2 separate regions of the Homo sapiens genome follow, and region 2 is linked to region 1. The links come from fine-mapping of genetic effects on gene expression. A gene starts in region 1. The other region holds a variant in brackets. All regions are shown on one strand. Distances are from middle to middle. Region 1 holds the start of SEL1L2 (SEL1L2 adaptor subunit of SYVN1 ubiquitin ligase). Region 2 overlaps SEL1L2 (SEL1L2 adaptor subunit of SYVN1 ubiquitin ligase).

The links. PIP is the estimated chance that this variant, and not a neighbour inherited with it, causes the effect. A credible set is the group of variants that fine-mapping cannot tell apart.
Region 2: its variant is the best candidate, but not a certain one, in a credible set for the expression of SEL1L2 in left ventricle (GTEx, PIP 0.59).

Annotation. Positions count from the first base shown.
Region 1 is chr20:13,988,710-13,993,159 of GRCh38, forward strand. It overlaps SEL1L2 (SEL1L2 adaptor subunit of SYVN1 ubiquitin ligase), which reads right to left and starts at 1,905. Exons shown (of 20, transcript NM_025229.2): 1 at 1,768-1,905. The coding sequence starts at 1,825. It also overlaps the pseudogene TRE-CTC10-1.
Region 2 is chr20:13,951,174-13,955,173 of GRCh38, forward strand. All of the region lies in intron 2 of SEL1L2 (SEL1L2 adaptor subunit of SYVN1 ubiquitin ligase), which reads right to left. Among named protein-coding and RNA genes, the nearest start is that of SEL1L2, 37 kb to the right of the region's middle. The variant A/C (reference allele first, on the strand shown) is at 2,230.

The sequences.
Region 1 (4,450 bases):
TGATAAAGATTGTGTTGAAGCCCAGATGCGGTGTGATTCATTCCTGTAATCCCAGCACTTTGGCAGGCTTAGGCGGGTGAATCACCTGAGGTCAGGAGTTAAAGACCAGCCTGGCCAACATGATAAAACCCCGTCTCTACTAAAAATACAAAAAATTAGCCAGGCGTGGTGGCAGACGACTGTAATTCAGTTACTTGGGAGGCTGAGGCAGGAGAACGGCTTGAACCCAGGCAGCGGAGGTTGCAGTGAGCCGAGATCACGTCATTGCACTCCAGCCTGGGCAACAAGAGCGAAACTCCATCTCAAAATAAATAAATAAACAAATAAATAAAGATTGTGTTGAATATGTAGATCAATTTGGAGAGTATTGCCATCTTACCAATATTAAGTTCTCCAATTCATGAACATGGGAAGTCTTTTCATGTAGTGAAGTCTTCTTTAACTTCTTTAAACAATTTTTGTGGTCATCAGAATATGAGTTTCACACTTTTTTTGTAAAATTTATTCTTAAGTAGTTCATTTTTGATACTATTATAAAGTTTCTTTCATAATTTCATTTTTGGTTTGCTCACTGCTACTGTATAGAAATAGAACTTTTTTTTTGTATTTATCCTGCATTTGTTATGGAGCTCATTTATTAGTTCTAATAGTTTCGTAGTTGATTCCATACGATTTTCTGTATACAAGATCATGTCTTCTGTGAATACAGATCATTTTACTTCTTTCTTTCCAAGCTTGATATCTTCTACTTTTGTTTCTTGTGTAATTGCCATAGCTAGAACTTCCAGTACAATGTTGAACAGAAATGGCAAAAGTGGACATCCTTGTCTTATTCCTGATGTTAGGGATGAAGCAGTCAGTCTTTCACCATTAAATATAGTAGCTTTGGGTTTTCAATATCTTCTATCAGGTTGATAAAGTTTCCTTCCATTCTTAGTTTGTCACACATTTTTATCACAAAGCCTGTTGAATTTTGTCAAATGCTTTTACTAGATTAGAATGATCATGTGATCTTTGTCTTTTATTCTGTTGATGTGATTGTTACATTGATTTATGGGTGGTAAACCAATCTTACATTTCTGGGTAAAATCCAAATATTTCTTTTTTTTTCCTTTTCTCTGACAGGGAATTGAACCTGGGCTGTGGCAGTGAGAGTGCTGAATTCTAACCACTAGACAAGCAGGGACCAAATACATATTTCTTAAATTGAATTTATCATGAGCACATTATATGAGGATTGGGTAAAAAGTAACTAAAAAAATGGCCAAAGAAACAAGATGGAAAATAACTTCCATTTTCAGATAGTAACTATTTAGGAAACATTGAAACTTTGGAAGTGAAATTGTTATTGTGTAAATATTTTAAAAAAGCATGTTTATACATCTTTCACACTCTTTGAGTCTTATATTTTTCCTTTAAAGTCTTGGAACTAGACCTTTATGATATTCTAAATTTAATAACACTTAACAACTTGCCCTAAATATCCCTACTTTATAACAATTACTGTAGTGGTTTCCTCATAGATTTGTTTTTTCCCCATCCCCCACACCCTTCCCAAGTACACACCCTTCCCAAGTATTATCCCAAGTGAGACTATCATTATCATCTATTATTCTTATTGGACATTTTAAAGTACCTGTACAAAAATGGCATTAGTTAGGGATATAGTAAAGTTACTTCTAGTCTTTTAATTGGCTTCTGCCCTTGGCGCTGTTTGAGCAAAGAGAAGAGACCCTCATAGAGAACTCTAAGGACAAAAAAACTTACTTTTAATTGTGACCCCAAGAATTATCAATATCTCTATTAACAGAGACAAGGGCTTCATCTTCTCTTAAGCAGCTTCTCTTCACTGTAACACAGGCAGAAACTAGGTGATTGGCCCAAGAGCTCCTCTTCTCAGGGACTGTGGTGGGGGCAGGAGTCAGTTGCTAAGCAACCATTTCCTTACTCTTGGGCCAATGGGCTGCCAGAGTGTTCCTTTCAAGCCGGAATGAAGGCAGCTGCTGGAGAATGTAGGCTGTGGAAAGGATCCACTGCTATTCCTCTGGCTGAAGATAAGGGGTAGGCTAGAAATTAGGGGTGGCTCTCTAACATGAAAGGAAGGGACCAGAAGTCCGACTCGTACGTGTCCACACGTTCAACTGTGTTCAGGGGTGCTGGAAGTTCTTATTTTTATGTTGCCTCTAGAGGTACAAACTACACTTATGTAAAAACACAATTAAGGTACATGAACTGATCTGACATCATCCTGTAAGCTGGTATCTCTAGGCTATGGCGGAAAAGAAACAATGGGCCAAGTCTGCTTTGTTCCCAATCTGGATGAAAATCTTTATCCTCTTTTCCAGTTAGAAACTGCTGAGGATTTACTGGAACAAAGGCAAACAAAGACTGTTTAACAATGTCTTTACATACCTCAGATAATACAGACATCTCACAAGTGGTACCTTCAAAGCTACGAGAAATCAAAATGAATATTTAGGGAAAACATATAAATATTAAAAATATCCAAGGCACAGAGCTAGTTGAGAAATTATGCCTACAAAAAATATCCAACTTTTACAGTCTGTCCAGGTCATTACTTTAGAAATAGACATTTTATTGTTTTGAATTTACAGTTTTATTCCTTTTATTAGTTTCCCATTGCTGTGATAACAAATTACCACAAACGTAATGGGTTAAAACAACAGGAATTTATTCTCTCATAGTTCTAGAGACCAGAATTCCAAAACCATTCTTACAGGGCTAAAATCAAAGACAAGGCTAGCTCCTCCTGGAGGCTCCAGGGAAGAATCCATTCTTGGCCTGGAATTTTTCAGCTTCTAAGTGGCTGCCAGCATTCCTTGATTTGTGACCACATCATTTCAGTCTCTGCTCAGTCATCACTTGCCTTCTGTAGTTTAATCTCCCTTTGTGCCCCTCTTATAAAGATACTTGTGATTACATTTAGGGCCCACCAACATGATCCAGAACAATCTCTCTCTCTCTCAAGATCCTTAATGTTGGCTGGGCGTGGCAGCTCACACTTGTAATCCCAGCACTTTGGGAGCCTAAGGCAGTTGGATTACTTGAGGCCAGGAGTTCGAGACCAGGCTGACCACCATGGCGAAACCCCGTGTCTACTAAAAATACAAAAATTAGCTGGACGTGGTGGTATGCGCCTGTAGTTTCAGGTACTCAGGAGGCTGAGGCATGAGAAGTGCTTGAATCCTGGGGCCAGGGGCCTGAGGGGTGGAGGTTGCAGTGAGCAGAGATTGTGCCACTGCAATGCAGCCTGAGCGACAGAGTGAGACTCCATCTCAAAACAACAACAACAAACCCAAACTTCTTTATAGGAAAATCAATGAGCAATGAAGGCATATAAGGGGAAGCGGCAAACAAAGGTCAGGTAGGGTCAGAGTCAGGGAAGGCTTTGCTAGGGAGTGATGTTCAAGCTGAAATATGAAGAACGAGAGTGAGTCAGCTAAACAAATCATGTCCCAGGTGTTGCAATGAACATGTTAAGAGGCTATGTGGGCTGGGTGCCGTGGTTCATGCCTGTAATCCCAGTACTTTGGGAGGCTGAGGCAGGTGGGTCATCTGAGGTCAGGAGTTCAAGACCAGCCTGGCCAACATGGTGAAATCCCGTCTCTACTAAAAATACAAAAATTAGCCGGGCATGGTGGTAGATGCCTGTCATCTCAGCTACTCGGGAGGCTGAGGCAGGAGAATTGCTTGAACCTGGGAGGCAGAGGTTGCAGTGAGCCAAGATCGCGCCATTGCATTCCAGCCTGGGCAACAAGGGTGAAACTCCGTCTCAAAAAAGAAAAAGGCTATATGGTGTTCCAGAACATGAAATGATGCTCTGTGGGCTGGAATCAGAGACTGGGGAATGGGGGTGGTATGGAGCATAGTATAAAATAAGGCTGGGTTAGTAGGTGATAGTCACTCCATTCTTAATAATTTAATTGTTATAAAAAGACTGTATTAGCCTGTATGCAACAAAATAATATAGACTGGGTGACTTTACACAGCAGAAATTAATTTTCTCAGTTCTGATGGCTAGAAATCTGAGACCAGGTTCTGGTGAGGGTCTTCTTCCTGCTTGCAAGATGGCTACCTTCTTGCTGTGTCCTCATATAGCAGGGAAAGGGGGTGGGAGGAGAGGATGAAAGAGATCTCCCTCTTCTTATAAGGCCTCAGTCCTATTAACCTCACTCACCCTTATGACCTCATTTAAACTTAATTACTTCGTAAAGACCTAATCTCCACATTTAGTCACATTGGAGATTAGGGCTTCAACATATGAATTTTGGGTGCACGTAAGTCAGTCCATAGTAAAGACCACCAGAAAGTCATTGAATGACTTACAGAAGTGAGAAGACGTGATCACTTCTGACAAGGTATCACTAGATGCAGTCTAGACAATGGACAGAAGAGGGGCAACAGTGGGCATGAAGGCCACTTAGGAAGT
Region 2 (4,000 bases), 38 kb before region 1:
GGCTGAGGCAGGAGAATGGCGTGAATCTGGGAGGCGGAGCTTGCAGTGAGCCGAGATAGCGCCACTGCACTCCAGCCTGGGCGACAGAGCGAGACTCCGTCTCAAAAAAAAAAAAAAAAAAAAAAAGAAAGAAAGAAAGAAAATACTGATTAGAAAGAAAATACAGTGTATTTGCTCACTCCTGTAATCCCAGCACTTTGGGAGGCCAAGGCAGATGGATCACGAGGTCAGGAGATCGAAACACAGTGAAACCCCGTCTCTACTAAAAATACAAAAAATTAGCTGGGCATGGTGTCACGCACCTACAGTCCCAGCCTGGGGAGGCTGAGGCAGGAGAATCTCTTGAATCCGGGAGGTGGAGGTTGCAGTGAGCCGAGATCATGCCACTGCACTCCAGCCTGGGTCACAGAGCAAGACTCTGTCTCAAAAAAAAAAAAAAAAAAAAAAGACTAAAATCTAGCCTATGTAGAAATAGTGATTCTTGCTGTACTTTATGCAAATAATCTGTTTTGCAAACAACTCAGTCCTATCATGATTGTTTTTTAACAAAAATGAGGACTGGAGAGAGAAATTATATTTCAAAACTCATCATACATTTGTCATTAAATTCTAAACTCATTAGTTGTTTTTTTTGTTTATATTTTTAGACTACCCCTGCTTGTTCCTGTGAACCAACCAATCAATCAACCAACCAAGCAATCTCCAGCTGCAGCTCAGAAAGAACAAAAGGGATGGGTAATGTAAAAATCTGGATCAATATTCTAGTTCTGAGCAATTATCCTGCAAATCCTGCCAGGTGATGGAAATAAACAGGATACTCATCACGCAGAGGTTTCCTTTCTGGGAAAGGAAGACCAAGGGAGCTAACCAAAGCCAAGCACCATGCACCCAAATCTTAGCAAGCATAACTATAGCCACCAGTTATTTGGGCATGTCACAAGACATGCTTTTCTCTCCCTTGTTGGAGGAGGATTCAATTCCACACCTTCACCTCAGCATTTGGCTTCTGATAAGGAGTCCATGTACCCCTACCAAGACACATTTTTTCCCAAACTCAATTCCAAGCTTCAGGTCAAAGCCCTAGGAAAGAAAACTGGATCTAAGGAATCCAGAGGCAGACAACAACAGAGGTTAAAAGACAGTGCAGGTAAGCAGGGCTAATTCCTGCCAATAAAGCCAAGCCTCCCATTTCATGGATAAGGGTCATGCTAGTATCCATGGCATAAATGAGGTCTAGGGAACTCCAAGGCTACTGATAGTAGGTGGGATAGAGACATAGGTGAGAGCAGCTAATTCCTATTATCTAGGCCCTCCCTGCTTCATGGGTGCAAGCTACTTTGGCACCTATGGATGGCACCTGCTAAGTTCACTGGGACTTGATGATTCAAGGACAGAAGAGGGAAAGAGGACACTCTTCCTTCTCTCCTTCACATACCCCAGGTATTGCTAGGAAGAGAAGGGAACCAGGGATGCCTGCTCCCGTCTTTCTAGATGGGTAGCCATTCATCTTCAATCTATACCCCTTTTGAATGCATCCTGAACCCCTGGGACTCCTTTTTTAAAAAAGCCTCCTTGGCTGGGCGCGGTGCCTGGACGCCTGTAATCCCAGCACTTTGGGAGGCCAAGGCGGGCAGATCACGAGGTCAAAAGATCAAGACCATCCTGGCCAACATAGTGAGACCCCATCTCTATTAAACATATAAAAATTAGCTGGGTGTGGTGGCGTGTGCCTGTAGTCCCAACTACTCTGGAAGCTGAGGCGGGAGAATCGCTTAAACCTGGGAGGCTTGCAGTGAAAGCCTTCTTTTTTCCTCCTCTTTCCTCTCTTCACTGATAGGTAATTTTGTCTCTGTACTCAGGACACTCCTGTCAGATGCATCCTCCAAACTGGGAAAAGTTAATTTCCCAAACCTTAGACTGGTTGGCTTAGGATTGGGCTCAGGGGAAGGGAACCCAGAAGCTTGATATGCTGGCAAAAGGGTAAAAGTTTTTTTTACAGTCGGGCTTTTGGCCTCCCTCTCCCTGTGCAAACTGGTAAAAGGCCTTGGGATTTTTGATGTGTCCTTACCCATCCCTTTTTTCTCGTTTTGATACGTGTTTTCTAATAACCTGGTTTGTCTCTTCTCACCTTCAGGCTATCAAACTCCAAATGGTCATGCAACTGGAGCTTTGGAGGATGGCCCTTTCTGCCGGGTACCCTTAGCTAGCTAGACCTCTGAGGGAGCTCCA[A/C]TGCCATTCCCCCAGAACAGCGCCCCCTGTCAGCAGGAAGCAGTTAAGATCGGTCTTCGTCCTTATCCTTATCCTTATTTTAACAGCAGTTAGATGTACTTCTGCAGAGGGGGGAATGAGACAGCCAGGTGTAAAAGGGTCCCTGGAGAAACTCCAACTGGGCTGCATACTGGGTGAATGAGGTGAATCCTTGGGAAGTTCCTGCCATTTGCAGGGAGGAAGAGTCTGGATTCTCCTATTCCGGGGTTGGTAACCTGGATTTAATTTGTGAGCCCACTGGCAGGAAGTACACTCTCTCGCTTTGCTGAAAGTCCCTGTTTCCCCACCTTTTTTCCTTTTCACCCAATAAACCCTGCCCTTCTCGCCCTTCAAAGTGTCTGCAAGCCTAATTTTTCATGGTCGTGTGACAAGGACCCTGTTTTTAGCTGAACTAAGGAGAAAGTCCTACAACAAAAATGGTCCCTCAGCCATATACTTGAGTTGCTCCCTTAGGGGGCCTCAGTTACTTCCCGATGGTACATTACATACCTGGGGGTTTATTACCTCTGTAATCAGGATCATTCTTTAATGTGGAAGGAAATAGCACACAGAACTCCTGAAAAAATTAGATCCTTAACACAAGACAAATTATCTTTAAACATTTTTTTCATGTGTGTATGTGTGTTTTCAAAAAGTTTTTGTCGGGGAATGGAGGAGTAGATGACTTTTTTTTTTGGAAGTTGTAGAGTCGTAAAGCCAGAAAGAGAGAAAAACTATGGAAAGAGCAGCTCCACTTAGGTGAGTGTGTTTTTAAAATTATAATGTAAATGGTAATTATTATGGAAGATAACCAGAATTTGCCAAGCCTACATTGGGGGTAGAGATGGAGAGAGGGTGCTTTCAGCCAAATAGTATCCTGCTCATTGCCAAGGAGTCATGTAACACTATGGTAAGTTCAGTGAGCTGAGGATACTCTATTCTGGTTGTAGGATAGCATGCATATATGGGCACTTTGCAGTAGAGGTGTTTGCAGACTTTGGGCTTTTCACTTCTGCCATCTGTGCTTGGGCCAATGGAATTGAGTGAGATATACAATCTACAAACAGGCTACCCTGGAACATTTACCCCAATCTTTGACACAAAGGTAGTGTTTTGTTTTGTATTGTGTTTTGTTTTGTTTTACTTTCTAATATTCTGAAATATCTTAGAATAGTTCTTAGTTTTCTTTTGTCCCAGGCTTTACAAGGTTGGAAGGGGCCTATTCCCATCTTTACTCTGGAGGTCTCATCTTCTAATGCTGGGCATTGGGTAGATGCTTATGGGTCTGGGCAGCATCCTTGTTCTCAAGCAGTAAGAGGATTCCAAAGGCCATTTTAGGTGTTATTCAGCAGGCACTGACTTGCAAGATGCCAAGAGCCCACAAGAGAAAGCAAGATGACCTGAAGAAATGGATGTTCCTTCATTCTCCACTTGCCTGAAGACAAACTGAGATTTAGGTGAAGCTCACATCTATTTCTGCTAATAACAATCCCACTGCTAATTATGGGATGTGGTAGTTATAGTGATAAGAGAGGAGCTATATTCAGAGGGGTTTAGAAAAGGTTGCAATGTACAGAGGGGTTTTTAATTTGTATTAATATTTCTCAGTTTACTTCCTCCATTTAGATTTAAGATTTACTCATTAATTCAATAAACATTTATTGAGTGTCTGCTATGTACCAGGCACTGTTCTATTGGCTGGGGATAACAGCAATGAACACCACAAACAAAACCCTTGCTCTCATGGAGTTTG